Linked DNA regions of Homo sapiens. The protein of the gene in region 4 purifies or fractionates together with the protein of the main gene of each other region. This does not show direct contact. Each region holds a gene or a part of one and is shown on either strand. Other genes may lie near its edges.

Region 1 (3,500 bases), on a different chromosome or scaffold from region 4:
CCTGAGGGTGTGCTCCGCCCTGTACCTCAGTGTGGTTCCTATGAACCGGAGCCTCTGGGCGCTTCCAGGCTGGACCAAATCTGTGAACACACACACAGCAAGAAGAGCCCAGTCTCCACATGAGCAGTTCTGTGTGGCTTGACTCAAATGTCTTATTTACTCTGGGCATTTCTTGGCTGAGAAGGCTGGAGTACACTAGTACTCTAAGACAGTGACACAGTGACCTTATTCCATTCTCCTTTTCCAATTGGCATTTCCCTTAGCTCTACAGTTAGGCCAAACGGGCCTTTTAGCATAGAGAAAGCAGAATCTGAGAGATTCTTTTGGGTAATAGGAACTCTGGATGGGCTGGGCCAGTGAGCTTACAGATCAAAAGTTAAATGCTTGACTCTGGCATTAACAAGCTAATATGCCACATCTATAGGGCTTTCCTTGGGTAGGGTAGGGGACTTTCTTCAGATTAAAAAAATACAGCATATATATATATACACTCATTTCTGGCTGACAAAACTACCTCTGTATGTATGATGGCACTAAAGATACTAAAATTACATATTTTTGTAAAAAGCAGTAATGTCTTAGATTAGGGAAATTTGCAAGCTGAGTAAGTCTGAAAAGAACTGAAGATGATCTTATAAAAACCCTTTCAGTCAGCTAATGTAGAATTCTATGGTCTTAAGTAAAAAATACCCTTAGGCCGGGCGCTGTGGCTCATGCCTGTAATCCCAGCACTTTGGGAGGCCGAGGTGGGTGGATCATAAGGTCAGGTGTTGAAGACCAGCCTGGCCAAGATGGTAAAACCCCGTCTCTACTAAAAATACAAAAATTAGCCAGGCATGCGTGGTGGTGAGCACCTATAATCCCAGCTACTCGGGAGGCTGAGGCAGAGAATTGCTTGAACCTGGGAGGCGGAGGTTGCAGTGAGCCAAGATCATGTCACTGCACTCCATCCTGGGTGATAGAGCGAGACTCCGACCAAAAAAAAAAAATACCCTTAGCACTTAAGTCCTAAGGGAGCTGCCCCACCCAAGCTGAGGCTTCAGGTTCCTATCTAAGGGGGGGAAAAAAAAGAGAAAGGAAATCCTGTTTCCTTTGCTTTGGGGATGGTGACAAGGAGAGCAATTTAAAGGGTTGGAAAAAGCTGTGTCAGGCCCCTTGCAGTCTCTGGACTCACTGCTTCCTTGTTGAACGTGCTGGGCCTCCACTCTTTCCTAGGCGTCATTAGCGCTGCTGAGGGGTCTCGCTCAGGGTTAGCTTTCTCCCTTGGTCAGGGGAAGGGACTTTTTTTTTTTTTTGAGAAGGGGTCTCACTCTGTCACCCAAGCTGGAGTACAGTGGCATGATCTCGGCTCACTGCAACCTCCGCTTCCTGGGTTCAAGCGATTCTTCTGCCTCAGCCTCCCAAGTAGCTGAGATTACAGGCACCCACCACCATGCCTGGCTAATTTTTGTATTTTTAATAGAGACGGGCCTTCAGTATGTTGGTCAGGCTGGTCTCAAACTCCTGACCTCATGATCCGCCCACCTTGGTCTCCCAAAGTGCTGGGATTACAGGCGTGAGCCACCACTGCCCAGCCGGGAAGGGACTTTTGCAACAGTATGAATGTTTCTTTTAGACAGAACCTTGTTCTTGATTTTGGGTAGCATTCCAAAGGAAGGAGAGGGTTCTTGTGTTAAGAGGTCCCTTCAGGACACGGAGAGAGGTTGAGTGATGAGCTGGAGAGACCTGGGCTTTTGGGGAGGAAGGACGATGTGAGGTTAAGAGCATCGTATTTGTTGAAGACACAGAGTTGAGGAAGGCTCGCTCTGTGGAAGAGGGCAGTGGAGCTGGGTTGGGATGGAAGAGAAGAGGAATGATACCTCACCTTGGGAGAAGCAGCCCGCAGAAAGGCCTGAAGTAGCAGGAGTCAAGCCCAGATTAGGTGGTCTGAGTGGACGGAGGTAAGGAAGAAACAAGGGCTGGTAAGATTTTAGGCTAGAGAACTTATCTGTAACTGTTGTTTTTGGTGTTGCTAGTACATAAAATCTCACTTGTCATCTTTCTTTCCTCCTATCCCACACCTGGGCTCACCAGGGATCCAGTGAGGGGACTGGTTTGTCTGCCTTGCTTCCCCAACCTAAAAACCTGACTGTGAAAGAGACTAACAGGTTGCTCCTGCCCCATGCCTTCTCCCGCAAACCCTCGGATGGCTCCCCTGATACTAAGCCCTCCAGACTGGCTTCTAAGACCAAGACTTCCTCTCTTGCCCCTGTTGTGGGCACCACAACCACCACTCCGTCGCCCTCTGCTATCAAGGCTGCTGCCAAGAGTGCTGCCCTGCAGGTGACAAAGCAGATCACGCAGGAAGAAGACGACAGTGATGAGGAAGTAGCCCCCGAAAACTTTTTCTCCCTCCCTGAAAAGGCTGAGCCACCTGGAGTTGAGCCATACCCTTACCCCATCCCCACTGTCCCTGAAGAGCTGCCTCCAGGCACGGAACCAGAGCCGGCTTTCCAGGACGATGCAGCCAATGCCCCCCTTGAATTCAAGATGGCAGCAGGTTCAAGTGGGGCCCCTTGGATGCCTAAGCCTGGGGACGACTACAGCTACAATCAGTTTTCCACATATGGCGATGCCAATGCCGCTGGTGCTTATTATCAGGTGGGTAGGAGGCACAGAGGGCAGGCGAGGGAATGTTGGAACATGGTGGTCAAGGAGAGCTTTGAGCTAGTGATACAGCCTCTGTGGTGTCACTTTGGCTAAATTAACCTTCTCTATTTATTAGGCCACAGAACATACCTTTATTCTGAACCATATTAATCTAAATTGCCCAAGTCTTAAAGTGTGACAGGGTGAACCACATAAATGACATCTTTATTCTGAAAACAATCTATTTATTTTTTATTGATCCATAATATTTGTACATATTTGTGATTGATATATATATATATATATATATATATATATATATATATATATATATATCTGTTTTTTTTTCTTCCTAACCTTTATTTTAGGTTCAGGAGGTACATGTACAGGTTTGTTACATGGGTAAATTGCATGTCACGGGTTTGGTGTACAGATTATTTTGTCACCCCAGGTGATGAGCATAGTACCTGATAGGTAGGTTTTTGGCCTTTTTTTTTTTTTTTTGGAGAAGGAATCTCACTCTGTTGCCCAGGCTGGAGTGCAGTGGCACAATCTTGGCTCAGCTGCAACCTCTGCCTCCCGAGTTCAAGTGATTCTCCTGCCTCAGCCTCCCGAGTAGCTGGGACTACAGATGTGTGCCACCCTAACATGCCCAGCTAATTTTTGTATTTGTATTTTATATTTTTTGAGACGGAGTCTTGCTCTGTTGCCCAGGCTGGAGTGCAGTGGCACGATCTTGACTCACTGCAACCTCCGCCTCCCAGGTTCAAGCAACTCTCCCACCTCAGCCTCCCAAATAGCTGGGACTACAGGCACATTCCACCATGCCCGCTAATTTAATTTTTGTATTTTTAGTAGAGACGGGGTTTCAC
Region 2 (3,500 bases), about 21 Mb from region 4:
TGACCCAGCCATCCCATTACTGGGTATATTTCCAGAGAAAAATAAATCATGCTACCAAAAAGGCACATGCTCTTGGATCTTCATCGCAGCACTATTCACAATAACAAAGACATGAAAACAACCCAGGTGCCTATCAATAGTGGATTGGATAAAGAAAATGTGACACATATATACCATGGAATACTATGCACCCACAAAAAAGAATGAAATCATGTCCTTTGCAGCAACATGGATGGAGCTGGAGGCCACTATCCTAAGCAAATTAACATAGAAACAAGAAATCCAAATACCACATGTTCTCATTTATAAGCGGAAGCTAAGCACTGGGTGTACATATGGACATAAAGATGGGAACAACAGATACTGGGGACTACTAGAGGGGGACAAATGGAGGGAGGCAAGGGCTGAAAAACTACCCACTGGGTACCATGCACACTACCTGGGTGATGGGATTATTCATACTCCAAACCCCTGGGTGATGGGATTATTCATACTCCAAAGTGTCACATAACATGCCCATGTAAAAAACATGCACATGTACCCTCTGAACCTAAACTAAAAGTTGAAATTATTTTAAAAAAGGAACTAATACCAATCCTCCTCAAACTCTTTCCAAACAATGAAGGGAAATACTTCCAAACTCATTTAATGAGGCCAGCATTACCCTGATACCAAAGCCAGACAATGATACTACAAGAAAAGAAACTACAAGCTAATATCCTTAATAAACATAAATAGAAAAATCCTCAACAAAATACTGGCAAACTGAACTCAACATCAACATGTATTTTAAATTAAACTTTTTCCTTATCAGTTATCCAAACATTTGGCTATCTAAAATTACATCAGGTTCCCAAAGGACTGAATCTTCCTCCTTCATTCCTCCTGATGTTCATGACTGGATATTAAAATTTAGGTAATTCTGATGGCTGTTGTTAGTGCCACCAATAACTCCAGAATTGCTATGTTCAATCTCAGGTTCAATCAGGAATTTCTGGAGAGCATCCACACTATTTCCCCAAAGTCACCTAGAAATTCCAAGATTCCACTATGAAAGCAAAATCATTTTGGTTCTTAAAAAGAGTTAAGGCTATTATAATTTTTCAAATAGTAGTAGTACAGACTTCAGAATATGACTACCAAGGATAGTGAATTCAACCTTTCTCCCATATGAAAAAAGACATATACAAAACAGATATAATGCCAACATAAGAAAAATTTTTAAATTTACCAAGCTAGCATCTATGCTTTTTTGAAATCATAAATTTTAGTAATTACCAGCTTTCAAAAATATTTTATCACCCTGCCTAGACTTGCAAAGATCAGGCAAAATTAGTATTTATTATTTAGCTATGAAAACCATTCCTGGACTTGGAAATACAGGCAAAATAAAATGACTATAAGTTTGATACCTATCTACAGAGAAAACTACAACTCCAGGAATTAAAAATATAATTAGAAGCATACCTATAATCTAAAGAAGTCTCAAATTCACAAAGTCTAAGAGTAAAAGTGATAAAACCATTCATCAGTAAAGAGTATTGTTTAGGCAAAATGCCATGCAAAATTATAAAATCATTCTAGACTCACTCTGCATGACAGACATTATAAAAATAAAAATTGTACTATACTAAGTCACAAAGACATTAAAAATGAAATGTCAGAGAAATGTGAGGCACTATGGTGAAATTAAAAATTATCCTTAGACATGAAAACAGCACATGTCCTTCCATGTAAAATGTAACATTAAAATAATTTTTTTAATTTGTAAATTAAAATACATTTAAAATTTTAAAATATTTTCTAAAATGTAATATCTGTCATGCAGAGTGAGTTAAAAATATTTTTAAAAATCTATGTTTTCTCACAGATCTTTAAACAAGGTGAGAAATACAGCATGACTATACCTAGTGAACTGTTTCCACTTATTATTCACTTAGCCTTTACAACTGACCTCCATATCTACTAAACCTCTTAAAGTGGCTTTTTAGAAAAATATACTGGGTAATATCCTAACCAAAGCACTTAGAGCCTGTTCTCAGTCCCTATCACCCTCCTGACTGTTCTGAAAAAACAGACCTTATTAACTATTCACTCTTTCTTAAAACCAACCATATACCAATTCTAGTCTTTCACTCTGACTTCTGTGTTTTTCAGTGTGAAATCATACCATTCCTTTTTCCCTAACTACGGAAAACTTAAGGAACCCCATTCCTCAAGATTCTTACCATGAACAATTTTCCTCTTTTTCTTTGTTGACTCTTGTCCTCTGATCTAACTTCAAATATCACCTCAGGATATTTGTGGATAACTTCCAGATCTCTAATTCAAATTGTACTCTCGAAAGTTAAAATAAATGTTTGTCAACTATTTTTTATCTAGTTTCAGTCAGTCAACACAATTTTTCTATGTAGCTACTATGTGCCAGACACTAGTGTTAGAAATGTATTCAAATCCTAATATGACAACGTCCTTGTTATCAAGGAGCAGAGACTAAAGGACAGACCAAAAAGTCTAATGCAATAGGTCCAAAATTGAGTATCTAAGTTTCCTCTTCCTGTTAACTGAATATGTATCAGGAGATTCTCGTATCCTCATTATCACCCAGGCTAAAACCTGTGACTCTCAATTCCATACTCAATGGGTTGCCAAGTAAATCCTATTCTTTATTTGCAATATTCTATTCCCGTTGCCATAACCTGGTTCAAGCCATTAAACATTTTCGTCCAAACTCCAACAACAATCTTCTGAAGTGTTCTGTAGTTTCTCATCTAATCGATCCTGCACTCAACTGACAAATTTTCCTATACCACAGATGTGATCCATCACTTAACTACATAAAAATGTTTAGTGGTCTCTCAATAGGTAAGTCAGATTAAAATTCTTCAGCTTGGCATTTTAGATCCTACATTATCTGGTCATTAGCTATTACTGTACTACTTTTTCATGTCTGTTACCCACTATTTCCTTACCTTTTGCTCTAGCCAAACAATGCTGTTTAATCATATCCTGGAAATTCATAAAATGTTTCCTATCTATCTTCATTTATGTCATTTCTCTTCCAACCCCAGACCAACTCCATTCTGATTAACAGTCTCATTTCTACCTTTAAGAAGTTTAACCCACCTTTGGTTCAAATAACACCATTTCTCTAAAACGTTCTCTCCATTCTCTGAATCTATAATATATGTAAAGGTCTTTTATATAACTTATACTTTTACTTCTATTATAATTTGTGTATGTGTCATATTGTTCCTGCTAAGATTATAAATGTGAAACATGAATATCTTTTTATCTTTGTCCTCCCAGTACACTGTAGTACAGTACACTGCACAGTTGATATCCAACAAACACTAAATGTATGTTGAATCTGAAATATGACATATACATAAAATAGTAGCTATGGCCATAAAGTTATATAGGACTTTTCTTTCACTCTCTTGTGTAGGAAATTATTGCCATGAGAATATATATATATATTTTTTTTGAGACAGAGTTTC
Region 3 (3,500 bases), on a different chromosome or scaffold from region 4:
GCTCACCCTGATCTCTCTCTCTGTATCACATGGCCCATGCAGTTTACCATTTGTTACTTGTATTCAATATGCTATTATAAATACAATATTAAATGTTCAGGTACATTCTTTAAGACACATAAATTATCAATTACAGATCATCTATTTTTTACAGAATTTTGGACTCTGCTTAATGGTCTTTTAGTATAGCACAACAGCAAGCCACAAAATAATTGTGACTATTTGCAAAGCCATTTATTACATGTCCAGTTCAACAAAGCACAGGGGGGAAGATGGGAGAGGGCTTTCCTTCTGGACATCCAATATCCATGTGTGATAAAGCATCTCCCAGTGGGATGGTAAAAACTGAAATATACCACATCAAGTAGGTAAAGAAATATATAATCATCCTGAACCAGAAAAATACAGTTTAAGTGCAAACTGATACAGAATTTCCCTTGGATAACCTGTAAGCCAACATATGACGTTCCTTTTTGGTTAGAGATTTTTATCATTTTTAAGTAATTTTGAATTCCAAATTCTGAGTTTAGTTGTTTTTGTTTTTTTTAAAGGAGGGAGTTTCAATTATATTTAATGGTTTTCAAACTTTAAATATTATTTCAACTTCTGTGGGTCCCATTCATCAACTTACAAAAGGGCCAGCCCATATTTAAATTAGGCCAGTTTCTAAAAAGTTTCTAAAATATTACTGCTTGCATAGATGTAGATGACATACTGGCATAAGATTGATGCTTAAATTGATACTAATCCACCTAAAAATACTATAGAATATTGTGGTTTTAAAAACTGTTGTAAATCTTACAGGTATACGGCCAGATTACAATTGTTCAAATATTCTGGAAGTCGTAGCTATCTAATAAAATATCCTAATTCATACTAGGCTTCAATTATATAATAATGTATTACAAACCCAGAAGTCCAGAAGGACATTATGTCAGAGTTTCAGGCCAAAATCTTGTATTCCATATCTAAACCATCACTCCAAATGTGTAAATTAATGAGGTGTTTATATCAAACATTCAAAAGACCAGCTATTTTGTTCCTGAATTTCATTGGCTCTATTGTATGTTTTTCTGAGGTACAATTATTCAAGCATCTTTGACGATATATTTATAACTTTTACTACTTAAAAGCTCTCTTTAACATATCCTACACTTTCAAGGAAAAGTGCTATATTAACATGGGTAATAATAAACTCATAATAAACAGTAAGAAAGCTGCAGTTTTGCCAGCCCAGGTTGCAAGATCCCATTTAACTTAATGATAAATATCTTACGTAAATAAATATGCTCTCTTTCATAATGACTCTGGCAGAACATAGTTTTAGACTCCTATAGTCCCTAGTAAGTATAAAGTCATAAGTTTCTATATAGAAAAAATAATCACTCCAGGCCTTCCTAAATATGCTATCAAATAAATTACCACCATGTGTATTTTCTATTCACTACTTAGCGAATGACCCATGGCTTTATTAACCGGCTAAAGGTTAGAGTCCCCTAATAAGAACGCTTCCAAAAATGACAGAAAATTCACATCCTCTATTGGCCAAAGACATCTCCAAAACACAATATTTAAGGGGGAAAAAAAAACAATTTAGAAGATAATTCTTTTACATTAAAAAGGAGAAATCAGAAATAGCCCCTAAATGTGGCTTTCATACTAGGGAAATTTTCTCATCTGTTCACAAGAAATACAGCAGAAAAGAAATGTAACTCATATAGTTTTCTAAGGTAACTCAAGTTAACCAAAGAATTTGTCCCTATCGTCCCTTAAATCATCTTGACCAGAAACAGAATCAAATCTTAAAGTGGTTAAATCAGGTCCTACCAACACTCCTTCCACTTGCAAATGCTGGGAAACAGTCCTTAGTATTACATATGTGATAATTCAGTTGTCCTCATGGCACCATGTCAAGATGTCATAAATAGTGATTTATTATTTCTCTGGGGTATCAAAAAGCTGCTGACCTAGAAGAGTTTGACAAAGGCCTTGTTTACAAAGGAAGATTTCTAAAGGAGAAAAAAAAAAAACAAGAAAACACTGGAGGACAGCACCACTTTTATAATTTATAAAACTCTTCTTTTTATGCTCTTGCTGTAATACATAATAATAAATGTCAAAATATTACAACAATATAAGGAGCATCACAATTACCTTTTAGAAAAGGATGTGATATGCTTTTATACTGGCCTGTAGAATGATTTATCTTAAACTTAATAAAAGAAAAAAATTTTAAATACTTATCTGCACAAGTGTCACTTTCTAGTTATACCATGTCAGGAATACTTTAAATAGAATTCAAGCATTAACAATATAATACAAGCCGAGGCACTTTTTTTTTTTTTTTTTTGTCAATTCTAAGCCTCAGGTGTTGGTCAAAGCACTTTTCAAGAAACTTGACGAGAAATGCTCAAAAACCACTTTACAAACGAACAAAAGAAAAGATCTAAGGCTGCTTTGAACATGCTCTTGTGGTGAATATTTTCTGTGAAACACCACAGTGCACCTAGTCCTGATGCTGGGCTGTTACTGATATAAGTCATAAGAGAAAGGCTGCATTGAAGGAAGCCCTCCCTCCCCTCACCCTCTTCAAGGGTTCTGATACCCCACATTCCTCATTCATTTGAAATGTTCTTTACAAAAATGGCATCTCTCTGATGCCCCCAAGGTAGACGGACCTCTGATCTACTGGGTTGTTTTTTTTTTTCCCCTCAGTCTACCGCAATAAGTATCTTTTGGACCTAACAGGTGTCTCTAAATCCCCTCTTTACAATAGCAAACATTTGCATTGTAAAGAAGCATTTGAGGAAAAAAAGAAAGAAAGTCCAAGAGAATAAAAGAGCAATTAGATTCCTCAAAGAAAAAGTGTGTCTCATTTTGCATAACAATGCAGCAACTAGGATTCAAATCTGCCACGCCTCTTAACACTTCACCAGTGTGCTAGAGGTAGCCTGGAAGCCTAAAACTCCAATGCTGGCCAACAAGCTTCTGGTTGTGGCCCCCCTGATAACAGATGGAAAATACTACTGAAAATATTTGAATGTGAATATGTAAGTATACACACACATAACATTGGGTATGGCTTTTTAAATTATTATTAGGGTTCTCAATGGTTTCTGAGTCTTTGGTGGTTGGATAGAAATTTTCTGCTACTCAACGCCCAAGCAACAATCTCATTATTTATGCAAGCATTCTGTTCAGACAAGCAAGGCACACAACCAGGTGTAAATTTTAAGTCCTTTGAAATGGAAGTTTGAAATTCGATATTGGTAACGCAGAAATGTTAAAAATAACCGCTCAGTGCAGTCAACAAACTGTGTATCCTTAATGTCTTCCTTGAGCTCTAACAGTACACATACAAAGTCATACATGCCTACATAATGACCAGAAAGGAGACAATGATGACACCTCTCCAAAAGATTACTAGCCCAGGTCGCTTTGCTTTTTCCAAAGCACCAACCTCCATCAGGTTAGGGAGGAGGAAAAAAAAGAGACAACCT
Region 4 (4,089 bases):
GGGTTAGTTCTACTTTGCCTGTCATCTTAGGAAATGTTATACACTCTCATGCCACTACAGGTCAAGGAGAAGTATAAAGCCTTACCTACATTAAAAAAGGAGCGTGTCATTAGAACAGAAAAAAGAGAATTTAAAACTATTAGAAAAACTAAGTTAGGCTTGGAGGTGGAAGCATAGCAGGTAAATAAGTAAGCATCTGCCTTTTCATTTTCTACCTATAACAAAGTCAGTTCCTGAATGGCAACTCCCACATCTGTTCCAGCTATGCTAGGAGGCATCTTCCCAGCTCTTTTCAAAGTGCTGCTCTGTCTAGCCTGGCCACTGTCTTTCTGCGGTCCCTCTAACCAAAACACTCCACTACCACTGGCAGTAAGAGGTGTGATTTTTTTTTTTCTTGGACATTTCAGGCCTCCACTGGCAGTTGCTTTCACTGTACAAATGTAAAGTGTGGAAAAGGGTAAGGACCTAGAAAAAGTTATACAAAAAATATGTGCCATTGTCAGGTGCAAAACCTGGCGACTACTCTGAACCAAATTAAGTATAATATCCTTCAAAATAAATGAGAATATATAAATAAGCTAAAATAGAATCCACACAGGCTTCATAGAAACTTTGAAAGCATTACACATTGGTAAGGCCCCAGGATAGGAAGAAAATAACCTAACATGTTCAAAAGGGCAAGGAAAAACCTCCCTACACTGGGAAGTTTGTTACTAAATAAACTTTTCTAAAATGGAAGCACAATAATGATCAGCTCTTGGAATTTTTATTGCTTAAAGGCACGTCTAGTATACACGAAATACTCTTTTAACATTGCTGGTCTTTTGGAAACATTCTTAGTTTTAAAACTTGAACCTTTATGCACTGAGTGCCTCAGGGTGAAAAGAAAAACTTGACTTTGCATTTCCTAAGCTGTAAGTCAGCAGCTTTTTGTCTCATTCATACCTATAGATGTATGTGTACACACACACAAACACACACACACAGACACATACACACCCCTATATCCTTGGTTAGTTTAGCTTGGATTAACAAAGGTACAATGCCCAATGGCTTTCATCTGTCTTCACTGGAAGAGTCACTGTAATCTGAGTCTCTGCATGGGAAACATCACCATTAGTGTTAGATGCTCTCCCGACATGCATAGCTACAAAGGGTTTTCTTAGATTATAATCTATGTGCTTGTTACTCTCAGAATTAATCCAGCATAACTAAATTTTGGGCCTTGAACTCCTTTGGTCACTTGGATCTGTGCCAACTCCAAATAAAATCACAACCATTTCAATTATTGTTCAGAACATTTGCCTCCTCCCTTGCTCTGGTGATACATTTTCTGCTGTCTCAGAGCTCAGAATGTCAGTTTGTAAAGCATGATTTAAAACTCTCTCAGTATGTCATTGTAGCAGTCCATTTTTATTTTTACTGCAGGCAACATGAGATTCCTTAGGGGTGAGCCTACTGCACATTCACCAAGACTAAGTGGACAATAGCACTGTGCTCACTTTTCCCTATAACACATCTCAATTATTGTGCAGAGACTTGATCCTATGTACTCTATGTTTAAAGAATGTAATTCTTTATGTGCTTGAGCATCAATGTTTTTACATATGGTCAGCTTTTTCCCTAGAACCTTGGCATGTAAGGCGAAAGAGCAACACTTCCTGAAACAAGTTCTGAGTTGCTTTATATTAAATAGCTGCCCTAAAGCACCGTACATTAGACAAAGGAGGGTGGCATCTGCATATTTGTCATTGAGACACCACAAAGGTTTTCGTTAGTGGTATTCTTACCATCGTGCTTCCTGTCAAAACCGATAGCATTGACATAAAACTAGGCTTTATGATGATTCAAAGGAGAGCTTCAAATCACAGGAGAATGTCAAGGGAGGCCTAAATCTCCCACTGGTTTCAGGCAGCTGCTACTGGAGTATCACAGGAAGTGACCAACTCAAGAGCAGAATCTGACCCTTTGGCACATGACATTAAGACCCTATTTAAAAAAAACCTTTTATGAATGGGTTTAGGTTTGGCTTGAGGTTGGCAGAGGTGTCAACTGGATAGGCATTTGGATCCCATTTCACAATAAAACAATTCATCATATTGAATTTTGAGGAAACTAGTGGCCACTAGCAGCTCTTCCAAATGTTTCATTTTGGGAACGAGAATTTCAGTGACTGGCTTACGAAGTCTTACAACACAGAATAGGAAAATAATTTTAACAATTGTGATTTTAGGATGCTCTCTATCAAGAGTCATGAGAATTGTCTTCAGAGGGTGCTGAAGAGACATCAACCTGTCTTCTTTGAGACTCCTAGTGTTGGTGTGGAAGATGCTACTGGAGACAACAGGTTCCTCCAGGCCTGATTGCTTGGTCAATTGTGGTAAAGTTTTATAAATTAATCTTTGTGTACCTTTTAAAAAAATTTAAAAACCTTCATCATCTTCCCTGCACTGTAGAGAAAATACTTGCTTTTATCTTTCTGGTAAAGGACCAGTTTCCAGTCTGTAAATGGGAAAAGTAGAGACATGCAAGAGGAATAAATTGTTAGAGGTCCCCGATACAGGGGGGTGACACCTGCTTACTTTTTCTTATCCTTGTCTTTCTTGGTTTGCTGGGCCCCAGATTGCTGGGCCTGGGACTGTAGTAACTGAGCCGCTGCTTTCTTCTTCTGGAAGTTGTTCACCTCCTCCTCAAGCTCCTTCTTCTTGTCTTCCACTTTCTTCTTTTCTTCTTGGTGTGTCCGCTTTAGAAGGTCAAACTTCTCGTGAAGCTGGAGAGAAAAAGAAAACAGGCTTGGTGAATGGAATGAAAATCCTTTTGATGTAAAGTTCTTTGGATCTGTTCAAAAAACAAAACATGGCCAGGCACGGTGGCTCACGCCTGTAATTTCAGCACTTTGGGAGGCCGAGGTGGGTGGATCACGAGGTCAGGAGTTCAAGACCAGCCTGGCCAAGATGGTGAAACCCCATCTCTACTAAAAATACAAAAATTAGCCAGGCGTGGTGGCGGGTGCCTGTAATCCCTGCTACTCAAGAGGCTGAGGCAGAGAATTGCTTGAACCTGGGAGGCGGAGGTTGCAGTGAGCTGAGATCGTACCACTGCACTCCAGCCTGGGTGACAGAGACTCCGTCTCAAAAGAAAATAAAAGAAAACAAACAAATATGTGTCATGTGGCTGCACTGGCTTTAATACAGGTGTAAAGTACCATTTTGCTGACTTCCTGGAGGAGCTGAGCTGGGATGCTGAAGAGCATCCCTCAGAGTCCCAGACTCCTGTGACACTAGAACTCCTTGGGACTAAAAATTCCTTCGCTCTGTTGCCCAGGCTGGAGAGTAGTGACACAATCTCAGCTCACTGCAACCTCTGTCTCCTGGGTTCAAGCAATTCTCCTGCTTCAGCCTCTCGAGTAGCTGGGATTATGGGCATGCGCCACCACACCCAGCTAATTTTTGTATCTTTAGTAGAGACGGGGTTTCACCATTTGCCCAGGCTGGTCTCGAACTCCTGACCTCGTGATCCTCCCACCTTGGCATCCCAAGGTGCTGGGATTACAGGCGTGAACCACTGCACCTGGCCAAAAATAATTATGATCCCAACAAAAAACTCACCCTAGTGGTAAAAGTGGTTCTTTACCTCTGGTCCTTTTTCGAAATGTATAAAAAACATTTACTTAGAAATATATACAATGACTACATATATGTATGTGTTTGTATATATATACACATATATATGTGTATGTATATATGTGTGTATATGTGTGTGTATATATATGTGTGTGTGTGTGTATATATATATATATGCATTATGTATTAGCTACTTAAATAATGTGTTGGGAAATTTCTGGCCCTTGAGGGAAGGAAGGGGAAGAAGAAAAGCAAAGGAAGAAGAAAGAAAATGAAAAAGAAAAGGAAAGGAAGGAATTCTAGACAATTTTAGATTTTTTACCCAGCATCCCCTTGGTTCTTGAAGCCAACAGCAAATAAGGCTCAACTTTCTCTGCAGCAAAACCATCTTGAGTGCTTAGCTATTTAAATAGCCTCTAAATTTCAGTAGTTTTTAGACAAAATAAATTAAAACAAGAAAACGAGG

The links. Proteins that work in one complex are often made in the same cells at the same time.
Region 1: the proteins of SEPTIN11 (region 4) and PRCC purify together in Homo sapiens (affinity purification with mass spectrometry, with the first as the bait; one large-scale study listed by BioGRID). This does not show direct contact.
Region 2: the proteins of SEPTIN11 (region 4) and RAP1GDS1 purify together in Homo sapiens (co-immunoprecipitation; one large-scale study listed by IntAct). This does not show direct contact.
Region 3: the proteins of SEPTIN11 (region 4) and SMARCA2 fractionate together in Homo sapiens (co-fractionation; one large-scale study listed by BioGRID). This does not show direct contact.

The regions. Positions count from the first base shown.
Region 1 is NC_000001.11:156,784,535-156,788,034, forward strand, and holds part of PRCC (proline-rich protein PRCC), read left to right. Parts: intron 1-2,073; coding exon 2,074-2,640; intron 2,641-3,500. UniProt on the Homo sapiens protein: May regulate cell cycle progression through interaction with MAD2L2.
Region 2 is NC_000004.12:98,264,384-98,267,883, reverse strand, and holds part of RAP1GDS1 (rap1 GTPase-GDP dissociation stimulator 1), read right to left. Parts: intron 1-3,500. UniProt on the Homo sapiens protein: Acts as a GEF (guanine nucleotide exchange factor) for the Rho family of small GTP-binding proteins (G proteins) that stimulates the dissociation of GDP to enable subsequent binding of GTP.
Region 3 is NC_000009.12:2,018,347-2,021,846, reverse strand, and holds part of SMARCA2 (SWI/SNF-related matrix-associated actin-dependent regulator of chromatin subfamily A member 2), read right to left. Parts: intron 1-3,500. UniProt on the Homo sapiens protein: ATPase involved in transcriptional activation and repression of select genes by chromatin remodeling (alteration of DNA-nucleosome topology).
Region 4 is NC_000004.12:77,029,464-77,033,552, reverse strand, and holds part of SEPTIN11 (septin-11), read right to left. Parts: intron 2,771-4,089; coding exon 2,583-2,770; intron 1-2,582. UniProt on the Homo sapiens protein: Filament-forming cytoskeletal GTPase. May play a role in cytokinesis. May play a role in the cytoarchitecture of neurons, including dendritic arborization and dendritic spines, and in GABAergic synaptic connectivity.